2 separate regions of the Homo sapiens genome follow, and region 1 is linked to region 2. Evidence: fine-mapped expression QTL. Tissue or cell type: monocytes after interferon gamma. Region 2 holds a variant in brackets; the other region holds the start of a gene. All regions are shown on one strand. Distances are between the middles of the regions. Region 1 holds the start of MVB12B (multivesicular body subunit 12B). Region 2 overlaps MVB12B (multivesicular body subunit 12B).

Region 1 (9,467 bases), 30 kb after region 2:
TCAATAAAGTCTGAGTATGAGGTCCTAGAATCTGCATTTTCATCAACACCACAGGCATATTTAGTGCATTACAAACTCATTTATTTCTCTCTTCTAAAGGATCAGGGGATATTCTTTTGAATATTCTGCTCTGCTGATTAGAATCTGTTTTTTTTAAGTGTGTGTGTATGTGTGTGTGTGTGTGTGTGTAAAGAAAGAAAGAACAAACTCATGTTGACTCCTGCCACAGGTCCAACAAGATGGCCCTCCAGTCCTAAGGGAAGTATGAGCCACAAAGCTACTATGTGCAACCCCTGGGCTCCAGGCCCACAGGGCTCTCACATTTCTGCCTGGACAAGCTCTGCATCTCGCCAGAAGCGTGTCAAGTAAACCAAATGCATGCCCACAGGATGTCCCCAACAAGGGAGGTAATGTCAAGCACACTCTGCAGTGGCTTTGCCTCCCAGGCAGCCGGAGACAGGAGACCTGACTCTGGCAAACCCACTGCAACTAGTGCAGACAGCGCAGGGAAGCCACGATTCCCTAGGGCAGCCCAGCAAGCAGAAGGCCAAGGAGAGCCGGGGTTGGGGGCGGGGTGGGTTGGGGAAATGCTGGCCAGGGTGGGCCTCGGTGAGAGCCAGAGCAGCCTGGGGAGAAGGAGTCTATTCAAGAAACCCAGGCCTCCCCTCCACAACCCAACCTGCAAAGGAGGCTCTGCAACACAGTGTGCTCAGCCTAACCACATCCAGCCATGTAGTCATTTGTTATCTTCATCATCATAATAGCACCTTCGACTTTTCCCATGCTTGACTCCAGCACCATCATTATTTTGCAGTGTGGCAAGGATGTCTCCCTTTGAGTATGGAGCACTTCCAGCAAACTCAGACAGAGGGGCCTATGCCATTTGGATTCTGATCCCCCCAGGAGAAGATCCTCCATGAAATGGATAGAGACTACACTTCTCCCTTACCCCTTCCAAGGCCCTGAGAGGGCATCCAGCAGTGTGCTCACATGGTGGCGTGGTTCTGTAACATGTACAAACACAGGATATTCTTGTATTCTTTTTCTTAATGCTCTCCCCGCAACAAACTGTATAAACATCGGACCTGAAAAAAACACCATGATCTGCTGCTGGATGCTGAATCGCACACTTAAATTTCATGAGGACCGCCACCTCCTGCAGTGCCAAGTGCAGTCACATACATTAGCTCCTTCAGCTCTTCTTGACTGATTAGCTTTATGGGGTAGGCTTTGTTCTTAAGACACTTTTACATTACAGAAATGGGGATTCAGAAAGGTTCTGTGACTCCCCTAGGGTCACCTGGGGTCCAGGAGGTAGCCTGAGAGTCAAACTCAAGCTCCTAAATCCAAGTCCAGTGTTCTTTCTACTATACCATCACTTCCTGGTTGTCCCGTTGAAGACTAAATAATAGGCCAGGCGTGGTGGCTCATGCCTGTAATCCCAGGAATTTGGGAGGCCAAGGTGGGAGGATTACTTAAGCTCTGGTGTTCAAGACCAGCTTGGGCAACATAGCAAGACCCCAACTCTACTAAAAATAATAATAATTTAAAAAAACAGCCGAGCGTGGTGGCAGGCACCTATACTTGGGAGGCTGAGGTGGGAGAATCGCTTGAGTCCAGGAGTTCAAGGCTGCAGTGAGCCATGATGGTACCACTGCACTCCAGCCTGAGTGACAGTGAGACCCTGTCTCAAAAACAAACAAAAACCAAAAAAAAAGCAGACAGAAAGAAACTCTAAAAATAAATAAATAAGCTACTCCTCTCATTCATCCGTTAACAAACCTCTCATAATGACCCCTACCGTTTACTGACTTCTTGCCATGTAGCAGGCACTGAGCTAGACTTTTCTTGCAAAATTTCATTTACATCACGCCATAATCCCATGAGATGAATACTATCATTAGTTTCACTCTACAGATGAGGAAACTGAAACTCAGAAAAGTTCAATAATTTGTCCAAGGGCACAAAGTAAGTAGGAAAGCCAAGACTTAAGCTGAGGGCTAATTCTAAACTCCCTGCACATAACCATGGCACAACATTCCAGTTGGAAGTGGTAAAAGGTCCCTAGCAGGATGGAGACAGGGCAAGAAAAATGCCTTGAACCTAAATTAGGAGTGTGACCTAAAGCCTAGAAGGAAGGAATGAAAAATATGGATTACAGAAGGTAAGTTTAGGTTTAAATGAACCAGTAATCGCCACGTCAACTGCTTCCCATGGGGCTTGGAGCCCGGGTCCCAAGCAGAAGCCTCATCTCTCTGAGGCCCTATTTAAAGATTCTGAGCATGGTACAGTATCTCCAAGGACCCCACATGATTTCTAACAAGCAAGAAAGGTGTCACCATCTACTGTAACTAAACATCCTAGCACATTGAGTTTTTCAGTTAGTCAAGGCTTCACAGAGCTTATTTTTTAACTCTCTAAGCTTTCCTGGTGCCGCTGATAAGATTTCCCAGCCCTGTTAAAACGAGATGAGATCCAGCCAGCTGTCGAGAAATGTACAATGAGATTATACTGAGAAGGAACCACGAGAGACAAAGGCCCCTAAGAGGAGCTGGTCTGCTGTCTGCTTTTGTGGCAGCAATCGGAGTGGGCTCTGGTTCTTGGGTGGGGGCAGGAAGCAGGGAAGGGGCAACCACCATTTGCCTTTTGCCCTCCTGTGGTCTTCCTCAGTGCCTTGTGCAAGAGGTGTTGAGGGGCAGGGAACAGAAGAGTCTCATCTTTCATGGTGAGAAGGGCTGCTGATTTAGAACAGTTGTGTGTTGGTAACAAAGAGGACAAAAGATGCTCTTGGGTCTACCCCGTTCCCTGGTGCCTGCCTCTGAGGATGTGATGTCCCCTGGTGCCATGCCTCAGCTCTTGTCCCAGCCCCTGCTCCTCCCGTCTCGCTGGTGTTGGAGTCACTGTAGGGTGCTCGACGTGCCCACCATGTTCCTGGATGGGTGCTCTGGGTCTCGGGTACCCAGGCTGGGCATGTCACCTTCCAGACAGGTGCCTGAGGGTTTAGGTGTCCTCTCTGCTGTGCCCAGGTCACAGAGGCAGTGATGCTCCTGGGGCAGGTGCACGTTGGTCTGCACCCACGTGACCAGAGAGAGCAGGACCCCAGGCCAGGCCGGTCAAACGATTGACTGTTCCCAGTCTGTGCCCAGGTGGGCCGCCTCCCTCTCACGCGGGCAGAGGTGGCTCTCGGCGCCCCTCACCTGCCCGGGCCTTGGGGGCGCTGCTGGCACTCGGGTCCCCCAGCTTCTCCCGCCTCTCGCCGCCAGGCCGAGCCCGGGCACCGGCAGCCGCGGCGCGCTCGGGGCTCTGCAAAGGCCGCCCGGGCCTGTCCCCGCCGCGGGCCGGGCACGGAGCCCGCAGGCCTCGGCGCGGCCCGGCTCCTCCCGTCCGCCCGCCCCTCGGCCGGGGGCCCGCGCCCGCCCGCCCGCCCTCCCGGCTGCAGGGCCGGCTCCGCCGAGCCTCCGCGGCGCCCGGGCCTCACTTAACTGTTCCCCGCTGGGGCGGCGGCGGCGGTGGCTGCGGCGGCGGCGGGTCCCGGCTCCGTCTCACGCAGAAGCAGCTTCTCATCGCCCGGGCGGCGCGGGAGGGGCCGGGCCCGGGGCCCAGGCGGCAGGAGCCGGCGCCGCAGCTCGAGCGCGAGCCTCACCGAGAGCGGCGGCGGCGGCGGCGGCGGCGGAGGGGCGGGGCGCGGCCTGGCGGCGGCGGCGACAACGGCAGTGGCGGCGGCGGCTCCCTCCGCGGGCCGCGGCGGCGGGCCGGGCTCCGGGCCTCCCGGCGCTGGCGCTGGTTCAGGATCGGGGGAGGCGCCCGGCGCCCGAGGCTGGCTCGGGCGGGAGGAGGGAGAGGGAGCCCTGGCGTCCCGAGCCCGCGCCGCCGCCCCGGCCGGCACCCCGCCTCCCCAGCCTCCCCCTCGACCCAGCCCGTCAGCCGCAGGCAGGGCCCCGGTGCGCCCACCCGGGCCTCCCCGAGCCCGCCGGCGACCCCAGTCCAGCCTCAGGCCCCCGGGAGCCCACGGCCTCTAGAGCCTGGGGCATCGATGGTCCCCGCCCCCAGGCTGGTCTTTTCCAGGGACCCTCAGCCCACTTAGCTCTCGTAGGCCTCGCTGTACGCAAGACCGGTCTTCCGCTCGGCTGCAGATCCCTGGAAGCCCCCAGGCCCTCAGGCTAGAAGTTGGACCCTTCTAAGGACTCTCCGCCCACCCAGCCATTCTAGGCTTCACTGAACCCTAGAATCCTTCAGCTCATCTTCCCCCACCCCCCAGCTCACCTAAGGTGAGCTCAGCCAGTCGTCTCAAACTAACCCCAATTGCCTAGCAATTCTCTTATATTAGTTAGATGATTTATCCCCAGAAGCCTAGAATCAGGTTTATGGGGCCAGCCTCAGGCAAGCATCTAGAAGAAGTTTTTAGCAGGAGTCCTACCCTGCAGTACTTGGGGAAGGCATAAGCCAAGGATAAAATGGAGCTGGATGGTTGGGGGAGGGTCCAGAGCTTGACCCTCAGCTAGAGTGGCTGGTAGGAAAGGCGGACTCTGCGCCTTAACCAACCATGCCCCCCACACCGCCCAGCCAGGCACCCCAGGCAGAGGCCAGCGTGTGCAAGATTTGAAAGGTTTCCTGCCAGGAGGCTGGAGCATTCGTTAGGACTTGAGGACCATGCAGGAGTGATCAGCATTGATTTGCTAATGCATTGAGTCTCATTTTCACACATTCTAGGCTTTTCCATAATAGCTGTTTGATCCTAAAGAGAAGGGTGCCAAGCAGAATGGGCTGTCGGGGGAAACATCCTGTAGGGAAGCCATGCACGTGTGCATTCCCAGTGTCTTCACTACTCAGAAATGCCATGGGTTCAGATGGCTTTACAGCAAGCCTTATCCTCCCATCAGGGCACAGATCATCCCTATGTTACTTAAACTGTTACACAGGAAAAAATAAACAAAAGAAACAAAAATTTTTATTTCATTTCCCAAGTTTAGCATAACCCTGATACCAAAATCCAACAGACAATACCAAAAAGAACTGCAGATGACTAACCTAGAACACGAGTCCCCAGAGAATTTAATATTTATTTTTTGAAAATGGGCTTCTGTGGGCAACTTGAGAAAGTGCTGCATGCCGTTTATAGTGTACCTTTTGGAGAATCACGATAAGTATTCGTATATTAAGGAAGGCCTCTGTGAAGTCCAGGAGTAAAGAAACCTGTTTGGTTTGTTTAACCTGGCATTTCCCAAACTCATCTGAGCCAGGACCACCTTCTAAAGCTCACTGATAAATCCTCAATATGTGAATCTGCACTATATATTTAAGTATATAATAGTCGTAAAACTATTAAATACAATTTTAGCCATTTGAATCCAGTTTACTATTAAAGCAACTGAAAACCCACCATGATCAAGCAAGATTTATTCCAGAGGCGCAAGAAAAATCCAACATTAGGGAATTTGTAAATGCATTGCATTGTTAAAGGAAAACAAATTACAGGATATTATCAATGGGATAGATGCTTTAAAAGTATTTTATAAACTTCAAAACTAATGACCCATAAATTTCTAAAAACTCTTAGTAAACTATTATAGGAAGAAAGTTTAAACTTTTAACATGACAAAGTTTATCAGAAGCCATCAACAAACATATTTAATGGTGAAACACTAAAGGTATTCTCATGTAAGTCAGTCAAAAGGATGCCTGCTATAATGGCTATAGAATAAAGCCAATGCAATAAGATAAGAAAAATAAATAAGAAATATAAATATTAGAAGGGAAGAGATAAAATTGTCATTATTTGCTTATGATTTAAGTGTTTCCCAAAAAGTAAAAATAAAAAAAATCAACTAAAAATCATAGAGACTTTGGTAAGGTGGTCAGTTATAAGATAAACACCAAAATCAATGGTTTTCCTAAATGTTAAGGGAGAAGCCTTCTCCTTCCTTCTTCTTCTTCTTCTTCTTCTTCTTATTATTATTATTATTATTATTATTATTATTCTTTTTTTTCTTCCTTACCCTGTCTTATGGTATTGAAGGGAGAAGCCTTCTTTTCCATATAGAGGGACTTCCATTAGAATAAGACTTCTGGCCTCTCTCCACTCTAAGGGAAGATGAGTGAGTTTGGAAAAAGTGGACAAGAATAGATGCTTCTGAGTTCTCTTTTTGGATTTGGCTGACTGCAGAGAGCAAATATTTCCATGCGCTCTCACTGTGGGTTAAGTGAACCTGTTTCAGGGACAGAGTGATACTATTCTCCTGCACCACCCGCCACTACACAAATAAATCTACTCAATTCAGGGAGAAATATAGCAAGCCCACTTAGCTACAGAGCAAAAGCTACTTTTTCCAGTCAGCTTCATTAAAAATTAAGGTAGTATTTTTGTCTTATGTCTCTTTCCTGTGTCTATGCCCCAGTTTGTTCCAAACTTAGAATAGGGAGGGAGGTATTACTTACAGAGACCTCCAAATACAACACTAAATACCAGTTATTTCCATTTAGGAAGTATGATGGAAAAAAAGCATATTCACATTAGCAATGAATACTATAAGGCATATACTAGGCATAAGCTTAACAAGAAATGTGAAGGTCCATGGAAAGAAAACTACAAACCTGACTGAGGGACATAAAAGAAGATCTTAATAGTCGGAAAAATATAACAAATCCCTGGGCAGGAAGTCTCAACAGTGCAAAGATGCTGTGTCTCCCCAACTCACTTTATAAATTTAGTAAAATTCAGATCAAGAAACCACTATGATCTGAGGGGTGAGGTGAGATGGAACATGATGAAATTATTTTAAAATTTACCTTGATTGGCGTGAGTGTGTTGGCTCATGCTGGTAATCCCAGTACTTTGGGAGGCCAAGGTGGGAGGATTGTTTGGGGCCAGGAGTTTGCGACTAGACTGGGCAACATAGTGAGACCCTGTCTCTAAAAAGATTTTTTAAATGAGCCAGGTATGGTGGTGTGTGCCTGTGGTCCCAGCTACTTGGGAGGCTGTGGTGGGAGGATTGCTGGAACCCAGGAATTTGAGGCTACAGTAGGCTATAATCACGCCACTGCACTCCAGCCTAGGCAACAGAGCAAGATCTTATCTCAGAAACAAACAAACAAACAACAACAAAAAAAAACTAACAAGAAACTTATCTTGATAAATAAGTATGAGGAAATACCCATGAAATTTTTGAAATGGAAGAATAATGAGAAAATATTGCTCTAACAAATATTACAATATAATGTAAAACTTCAGAAGAAACTATGGGCCACTAGTGTAAGAATATACACTTTTGTCATATATTAAGTTCCGTTTATAAATGCTTTGTTTTTATCCATTGATCTATTTGTGTGTATAGATATAGATATAGATGTAGATATAGTTTTTTTTTTACTTTAAGTTCTGGGATACATGTGCATAACATGAAGGCTTGCTACACAGGTATACATGTGCCATGGTGGTTCATGGCACACATCAACCCGTCCTCTAGGCTTTAAGCTCCGCTTGCGTTAGTCATTTATCCTAATGCTCTCCCTCCCCTTACCTCCCACACCCCAACAGGCCCCAGTGTGTGATGTTCCCCTCCCTGTGTCCATGTGTTCTCATTGTTCAACTCCCACTTATGAGTGAGAACATGTGGTGCTTGGTTTTCTGTTCCTGTGTTAGTTTGCTGAGAATGCGTATATTTTTAAATAACTATTCCTATAAAAATAGGTATATCCATTGTATATTATACATCTATTGTATATAATAGGAATATCCATTTTAATCTATTGAGCTATTTGTATATAGGTATACAAATAAGGCATACAAATTTGTATATTTCATACACCCTACTCCAAACCATATTTTCTGGCCTAGACCACTCTAGTAATTTCCTTACTGGTCTCCTGGCTTTGCCCTACCCAAACAATGGAAAGTAGCAACCAGAGCAATCATTAACAAATAATAATAGGCCAGGTATGGCGGCTCATGCCTATAATCCCAGCATTTGGAGAATGCTGAAGCAGGAAGATCGCTTGAGGCCAGGAGTTCAAGATCAATAAACATAGTGAGACTCCATCTCCACAAAAAATAATAAATTAGCCAGACATGGTGGTGTGAACCTGTAGTCCTAGTTACTTGGGAAGCTGAGGCAGGAGGATCACTTGAGCCCAGGAATTTGAGGCTATAGTGAGCTATGATTGTACCACTGCATTCCAGCCTGGATGGCAGAGAGACCCTGTCTCTAAAAAAATAAATAAATACTTTTTTAAAATAAAAAAATAATAATAAGTGCTGGGTGCAGTGGCTCACACCTGTAATCCTTGCATTTTGGGAGGCCAAGATAGGAGGATCGCTTGAGCCTAGGAGTTTGAGACCAGCCTGGGCAGCATGATGAAACTCCATCTCTATGAAAAATAACAAAAATTAGCTTTGTATGGTGTGGCACACCTGTAGTTCCAGCTACTCGGGCAGCTGAGGTAGGAGGATTGCTTGGGCCTGGGAGGTTGATGCTGCAGTGATCTGTGATCATGCCACTGTACTCCAGCTTAGGCAATAGAGTGAGACCCTATCTCAATAAATAAATAAATAATAAATAAAACAAAATAAATAAATAATAAAAATGCAGCAGGTGCTCCCTTGCTTAAAGCCCTCCAGGGACTTTCCATAAAATAAAATAAGATTTAAATGCTCCAGCACAGCCTTCAAGGTCCCATGCTATATGGACCCAGCTTCCCCTCCATCCTCCTCTCAGCCATTCTAACCAACTGGCTTCCTTGTAGATCCTTAAACATCAAAGCTCTTTCTTCCCTGGGTGACTCTGCCTACAGCACTCTTTTCAGTCTTATAGGGTCTGGGCTCTTCTCATCCTTGAGCTCTCAGCTCAAATGTCACCCTCTTGGAGGCCTTCATGGGTCATCTATCTAAGTAGGTCCCTTTTATTTCCATACCCCACTAGTTCATTTCCTACTTATCACTCATCACAATTTGGAACCATCCACTATTTGTTAACCTGTTCAACTGTCAGTCTTCCCAGCATACAAATAGCTCCACCCAGACAGGAGACATATCTGTTCTGTTCACTAAGCATAAGTGTGCCACACATACTAGCCCCTCAATAAACATTTTCTAGATAGATGTGTCAACATTTAATATGTGTGTACCCTTTGTCCATGTCTAATAATTTATCCACAATAAACAATCAGACAAGTGCACACAGATGTATGTTCAAGGATAATTATTTCAGCATTGCTTATAATGAGAAAATATTGGACATAGCCTAAATGTCTAGCAATAGATTGAGTCATTTAAAAAAGCTGTACTGACATAGAAATATATCATGGTATTTTGTTAAGTAAAAAAGAGGTTCTAGAACAGAATGCATTTATTATATGAGCCCATCAATTTTATATGTATTTGTGATTATTTATATGTATTCATATATGCATAAAATTCTTGAAAAAATATATACCCAATGTTAACTGTTTAACAGTGGCTACGTCTTGGGAAT
Region 2 (8,000 bases):
TGGAATTAAAATTATATACAACACAACAAAATTTGAGGGATGCAGCTAATTCAGAGTTTGGAGGGAAATTCATAGCATTAAATGCTTATGTTAGAAAAGAAGAAAGGTCTCAAATCAATGACCAAAACTTCCACCTTAAACAATAGAACATTTAACCCAAAGTAAGCAGAAGAAAAAATTTTAAAAAGTGAACACAATAAAGTTAAAAACAAGAATAGAAAAAGTCAATAAAACCAAAAGCTGGTTCTTTGAGAAGATTGATTAAATTGATAAAACTAAGACTATAACCAAAAATAAAATGGAAAGAACTAAAAAAAGAACTACTATTTGATCCAGGATGGCAGCCTGAGCAAGAAAAAAAGAGAGATGACACCAATTACCATTATTGGGAATAAAAGAGAGTACATTCTCCAGATCTTAGAAGCATTAAAAGGATAACAAGGAAATATTTTGAACAGCTTTATGCCCAGGAATTAGAAAAATTAAATTAAATGAAAAATTCCTTAGCAGACACAAACTACCAAGGCTCATTTAAGAATAGATAACCTGAATGACACTACATCTATTTAAAAAATTGAACTGTTGTTTAAAAACCTTCCCACATCCAGGCCCAGAGAGCCTCACTGGTAAAATCTGCAAATATTTACAGAATAAATAATACCAAATAAACATTAAATATTTCAGAAAACAGGCAAGAAAGGAACACTTCTCAACTCAGTATATGAGACCAGTATTACCCTAATACTAAAACCAGATATTATAAGAAAACCACAGACCAATCCATATTCCTTATGAACATACACATAAAATTTCTTAACAAAATTTTAGAAAATTGAATCTAACAATATATTAAAAGGACAATTTATTATGTCCATGGGGGATTTATTCCAGAAATGGAAGTTTGGTTTAACACTCAAAAATCAATCAGTGTATTTCATTATATTAAATGATTAAAAGAGAAAACCCAGGCTGGGCATGGTGGCTCACATCTGTAATCCTAGCACTCTGGGAAGCTGAGACTGGATACCAGCCTGGGCAACAGAGTGAGACCCTGTCTCCATAAAAAAAAAAAAAATTAAAATTAAAAAGAGAAAATCCATATGATAATTTCAATAAAAGCAGATAAAGCATGTGATGAAATTCAATATCCATGTATGATTTAAAAACCCTCTGGAAGGGTACTTTCTGTTAAATAGTATCTATTTCAAAATCCACAGCAAATGCCATATTTAAATGGTGAAACACCGAATGCTTTCCCCCTAAGATTTGGGAAAAGGCAAGAATGCTTGATTTCACTACTTCTACTCAATAGTGTACTGGATGCTCTAGCCAGTTCAGGGAGGCAACAAAAAGAAATAAGAGGCATACAGACTGGAAAGGAAGAAGTAAAATTGTTTTTATTCACACACAACATAATTATCTACATAGGAAGTTGTAAGAAATATTCAAAAACGTTATAAGAACTAATAAGTGAGTTTAACAAGATTGCAGAATACCAAGTCAATCTACAAAAATCAATTGTATTTCTATCAACAAGAATGGAGTTAAAGTAAAAATAAATACCATTTACAATAGCATCAACAATATGAAATGCCTGAAAGATTAGACAAAAGATCTGCAGACTTTACACTAAAACTAAAAGACTGCTGAGAGAAATTAAAGAGGACTTACATAAATGAAGAGATGTACCACATCCATGGATCTGAAGACTTAATATTGTTAAGATGTCAACTACCTGCGAATTGACCCACACATTTAATACAACTCCAATCAAAATCCCAGAAGGCTTTTTTTTTTTGTAAAAATTGACATGCTTATTCTTAAATTTGTATTAAAATTTGAAGGACCTAGAACGACCAAAATAACTTTGAAAAAGAATAAAGTTAAAAGACTACCTGGTGTTAAGAATTATTACAAAGCTACAGTAATCAAAGAGTATGGGTTTGGCATACAGGCAGACTTATAGATCAATGGAATAAAACAGAGTCTAGCAATGTGCCTATACATCTACGATCAGCTGATTTTTGACATAAGTGCCAAAGTAATTCAATGAAGAACAGATGATTTTTAAAGAAAGGGTACTAGAACAATTGGACAGCTATATATAAAAAATGATATTTGATCCATATATCATATCACATATAACCATTAACTTGAAATACATCATTGATCTAAATATAACAACTAAAACCATAAAACTTCCAGAAGGGATTAGAAGGAAAAATCTTGACCTTAGGGCTAGCAAAGATTTAGTAAATGTAACACAAAAAGCACTAACTATAAAAGAAAAAAAATAAACTAGACTTCATCAAATTTTAAAACTTTTGCTTTTCAAAAATACTGTTAAGAAAATGAAAAGGCAAGCTACAGACTGGGAGAAAATAGTTCATACATATCCAACAAAGGAATTGTACTTAAAATATACAAAGAACCCTTTCAACTGAATAAGACAAATAACCCAGTGAAAAGCAGGTAAAAAATTTGAACAGATGCTTCACCAAAGAAGTTATACTAATGGCAAAAAAAAAAAAGCTCAAAATCATTACTTGTTAGAGAAATGCAAACTAAAATCATAAACAAATACACATCCACTAGAATGGTTAAGATTAAAAGAATGACTATCTCAAGTGTTGGCAAGGATGTGGAAGAACTGAGACTCAGATGCTCGGCTGCTGGGATATAAAATGATACAACCACTTGGAAAATAATTTGGCAGTTTCTTTTAAAGTTAAACATGCATCTACTGTGCAATCCAACCCTTCCACTCCTAGGTATTTATCCATAGGAAATGAATGTGTATGTCCACACACAGACTTGCATATGCATGTTCACAGCAGCTTTACTTTAATAGCCCAAACTGGAAACAAGCCAAATAACCCTCAACAGGTAAACTGTCATACAGGTGTACAACAGAGCACTACTCATTAAACAAACAAACAAGGACACACTCAACAATATGAATGAATCTCAAGATCATTATTCTGAGAGGAAAAAAGCCAGACAAAATAAAGAATTTACATAAAGTTCTAGAAAATGCAACCTAGACTACAGTGACAGAAAGTAAGTAGACCAACGGTTTCCTAGAAGTGGGGTTGGGGGAGTGATGGCTTGTATTAGGCCATTCTTGCATTGCTAGTCTCAGGGAATACCTGAAACTAGGTAATTTATAAAGACAAGGGGTTTAATTGGCTCATGGTTCTACAGCCTATACAAGCATGGCACCGGCATCTGCTTGGCTTCTGGGGGGCCTTAGGGAGCTTTTACTCATGGAGGAAGGTGAAGTGGGAGCAGGCATGTGACATGGCCAGAGCAGGAGCAGCAGTGAGAGAATGAAGGCAGGTGCCACACAGTTTTAAATGATCAGGTCTCTCGAGAACTCTCTCTCTCAAGGACAGCACCCAAAGGGAATGCTAAACCATGAGAAATCCGCCCTCGTGATCCAATCACCTCCCACCAGGCCCTACTTCTACCACGGGGGATTACATTTCAACATGAGATACAGGGTGACAAAATACCCAAACTAAATCAGGGATGCATTGTAAAAGGGTAGGAGGAACCTTTTAGGGGTGATGAACATGTTCATTATCTTAACTGTGATGATGGTGTCCCAGACATTTACATACATACTCCAAAACTCATCAAATCATACACTCTAAATATATGCAGTCTATTGTATGTCAATTATAAAGCTATCAAAAAAATCCATGCGCAACAGAAACCAAACACGTACGTACAATAACAGAAATGACAAAACATCTGTGGGATACTTTAAAACTTAACTAAGAAGTACCAAAACAAGACCTAAGTACCCAAATCATGCTCCCAGATAGGAAAACTCAGTATTGCAAATATGTCGAATCCCTTCAAATCAACTTATTACCCACTGCAATTGCACTGAGGATCAAAACATAGTATTTTGTGCAATTTGACGAGTTGAATCTAAAGTTCTTTTAGAAAAAATAACATGTGGTAGTAACCAAAACAATTTTGAAAAAGAGGAGAAGGAAGGAAATAGTTCTAGCAGACATTAAAATATATTCTAAAAACCTTGAAAACATGACTCTAAGTGAAAGAAGCCAAACAAAAAAGGTCACATCTTATATGATTCCATTTATATGGAATATCCAGAATAGGCAAACCCATAGCAACAGAACACAGATTGGTGGTTGCCAGAGGAAGGCAGCGAAGGGAGAATGAGGAGCAACTTTTAATGGGTACAGGATTTCCTTTTGGGGTGATAAAAATGTTTTGGAACTAGATAGAGGTGGTGGTTGTTCAACATTATAAATGTACTAAATGCCACTAAATTGTTCACTTTAAAATGGTTAATTTTATGTTACTTTACCTCAGTTTTTAGAAAATCAACAATTTGCTAACTTCAAAAACGATGCTATAAACCTGCAATCACTGAAACAGTGGGCTATTGTAGAAGAATAGGTTAAATTGATTAATTAAAGAGAATGCGGCCTAAAAACATTCTGGAAAATCCCTCTCTTTGGGGCCCAAGCAAATGCCACCCGACAACAAGATTTCTTCCTGTGGTCAGCAGGCTGCTTCCTAAATCATTTGAAGCCAGCAGGCCTTAAGTTATAAGCAAGATGTTGCAACGCCCTCATAATGCAGTACTTTAAATTTAAGCAGAAAAGTAGCGTTGAATGTTAAGGGCATGATTTGCTGTTAGTGGTATGACTTGACCTAACCTGAGTATTGTTTATGCCCCTGGCCCTGGGCCTGCTGCAGTGTAGCTGCTGTT[A/G]TATCTACTACAACCTCTATGCACGTGGGCCTCACATCCCAGCCTGAAGGGCAAAGCCCACCCAGCATTTCCGCAGACCCCTAGGATGGGGCTTCCAGGATCAGCCCCTCACCTGCTAGCTGGAGTCTGGCTTGGGGTCATCAGGGGTCAGAAGGAGGTGGTAATAAAGTTTATTTCTTTTTCCCCTATGTCCTGTATTCCCTGCATAAGGGCCCTATATTAAGGAAAAAGAAGCTGCCGTGGGTTTCATCTGTGGGATAGGAAACGAGCGTTCTAATCAGCATAAATCTGTGCATATGCAAAGACCTCTAGCATATGACAAATGCAGCTCATCAAAACCACAGGGAGAAGACAGTGTTCAGAAAATAGCTACACAATTGGAAAAAAATAAGTTAGACTCCACTTTATACTCCACTCCAAAATAAAAATCTGATGTTTAAAAAGCCAAATCAATAAAATAGACGGTATATTAGCTGAAAATCGATGATATTTCTATTATCCTGAGGTAGTCAGGCTTTTTTGTTTCTAATTTTTTTAAGTTTTTATGTAAAAATAATTTCATATTTCAAGATCGGCTACAAAAATAATGCAAATAATTCCTATATACCCTGTCCCCAGATTCCCTAAAATGTTAACATTACTATGTTTGCTTCCCCTTCTTTCTCTGTATTTATATATGTATACATTGCATTCCCACGCATGTGTGTATATATGTGTTTTCATATCCATGTGGTCATTTACATGCTGTGTCCTTCTCAGTGTAGCATATCAGCAGGCACATGACATCTAATTGTCTCATTACTGGTAATGTTAACTTGGATCACTCGCTTACAGTGGTATCTGCTGGGTTTCCCCACTTTTATTCCTTTGTAATTAACAACTATTTTGTGGAAGATACTCTGAGACTCTGTAAATACACTGTTTCTCATAAAAATATCACCTCCTAGTTTTAGCATCTAGACAGGTCTTTTAAAGAATTAAGACCAAACAAATCATAACAATCATAAAGAAAGAAAGAAAAAGATTGACAGATATGATTACATAAAAACGAAACAAAACTTTGATAAGAGGAACAAACATATCAACAAAATGTGATACTATGAACAAGACTGAAAGATTGACAGTCCGAGAGAAAAATATCTGTAACATATATAACAGGCAAAGAACCAATACACAGAATATATAAGGGAAGCCTAGAAACCAGGAAGAGAAAGCCAGCCATATGAGCCAGCTACAAAAACTGGAAACTGACAGTCAAATGCAAAAGGCCAAGAAACATGAAAAGATGCTCAGCCTTATTGCTAATCACAGAACTGCACATTCGCAAAATGAGCTCCTAGTTTTGAAAAGTAATAAAAAGACTGACAATAAAGGGTAATGGTATGGACAAGGGTAAATAGCTATTTGGATATACTGTTTACTAGGAGTATATATAAATTGGTGAAGTATTTTTGAAAAGCTACCTGGTATAGTAATTACTGAAATTTAAAATGTACACATCCTTTGATCCACCAGCACACACCCAGAGATGTATGAATGGGAATACTCATCATCAGCATTGCTTTTCACAGACCAAAAAGAAAAATCTAAATTTTTATCAGCAGCACAGTGGTTACTAAGTTATTCTACAGTAGGGAAACATACCAGTAGAAGAATAGAGGCTGAGTGACATGTCATGACATGGAGAGACTTCTTACATATAATGTTAAGGGAAAAAGAAAAGTCAAGGCACACTATGTACTGCATAAGAATACATAATAATAACACTAAGGTAACAGCCACAACACTCACGCTACTGCCAGTCACTGTTAAATACATTACAAACATTAGCTAATTTAATCCTCAACACAATTCTATGAGGAAAGTCCTGCTATTAATCCTCACTTTTGAGACAAGACAACTGAGGCACTAAGAGGTAAAGTAACTTAACCAAGGTCACCATCAAACTATAGGGCCTCTCTCTATAAATAGGTATTTGCAGATTTGTGGGAAAAGGATTGGAGGGATACAGACCAAACTGTTAACGATAATTACCTCTGGGAAAGGGAAGGTGACAGTGCTTTATTGCTTGAATCTTTTACAGTGAGAGTGTATTTATACAGTATAATACTTGCACTATTAAAACAAAACAATACTTTACAAAGACATGAATGAATGAATGACAGAAGTGAGCTGACAGATTCCCTGGATGTCTGCCTACTTCAAGAACCAGAACAGATCCTTCCTTCCAGTCTCATCTCCCCTTCCTGGAGACATCTCATGGACTCTTCTCTTCTTCAGTAGTCTCCACCTTTCAATACTGCTCACCAGCCACAATCCTCATCTCCAGCCACATCTCCTCTTCCTGATTTGCATAATCCCTCCTGCAAACAGCCTTTTAATACTATAAATCTGGACTACGAAAATTGAGAAAGATGGCTCCGCAGCATTTTGAGTCTTCCATACTTTAAGGAGTAACTAGCAAGTATTTTACAAGCACACAATAGCATACTTCCTGCCTATATATATAATATTAAGGCTGAAACATAAATGTTTTGGAAAGATTTATGACAGGCTTAGAAATAAACAGATTCTCTGGCTAACTCTGAATTAACATAAAATTAAAGCAAGCCAGTACTTCCACTTCCAGGAATATGGAGTAAATATACTTTTCCCTAATCTTCCCAGTAAGTACAACTAAAAAAACTGGAAATTATACCAAACAAACACCAGAAGACTCTGAAAGGTGAAATAATCCGTCTGACCAGCTAGGGATCTCATGACCCAGGGAACAACATGGTGGTGAGTTCTGTGGTTTTCTTTCTGCCTCATATATCCCAGACTTGAAGCTAAAGAAATCAGCAACCCAGAAACAGCAGTAAACACAAACCAAAAACCAAAGAAACAAACAAACAAAAACAACAGAAGCCTGCTTTCTCTAGTCAGGGGGCAGCCTAGCAAGAGGGAAGATGTTTAGACAATAATTGCTCTACCCCAGCCAAATGCCACATAAAATACTGTGGCCCCACACCCACCCATGCCAACAAAGCCAGAGTAAGGATCCCAGACTTCCACATCTAAACATCTAAAAAATAATTAATACTAATTCTACACTGTCTCTTCCAGAAAACAGAAGAGGATGGAACACTTTCCAATTCATTTTATGAATCTAGTATTACCAAGCCAGACAGACAGTATACAAAAAGAAAACTACAGATCAATATCCCTCATAAATACAAACACAACATTTTTTTCTTTCTTTTTCAGA

The links.
Region 1: it holds the start of MVB12B, and the variant in region 2 is fine-mapped to the expression of MVB12B in monocytes after interferon gamma (Fairfax 2014, PIP 0.95).

The regions. Positions count from the first base shown.
Region 1 is chr9:126,321,027-126,330,493 of GRCh38, reverse strand. MVB12B (multivesicular body subunit 12B) reads right to left here and starts at 3,665. Exons shown (of 10, transcript NM_033446.3): 1 at 3,484-3,665. The coding sequence starts at 3,564. RefSeq lists an enhancer at 2,448-3,099 and a silencer at 3,541-3,680.
Region 2 is chr9:126,352,137-126,360,136 of GRCh38, reverse strand. All of the region lies in intron 2 of MVB12B (multivesicular body subunit 12B), which reads right to left. Among named protein-coding and RNA genes, the nearest start is that of MVB12B, 29 kb to the right of the region's middle. The variant A/G (reference allele first, on the strand shown) is at 4,754.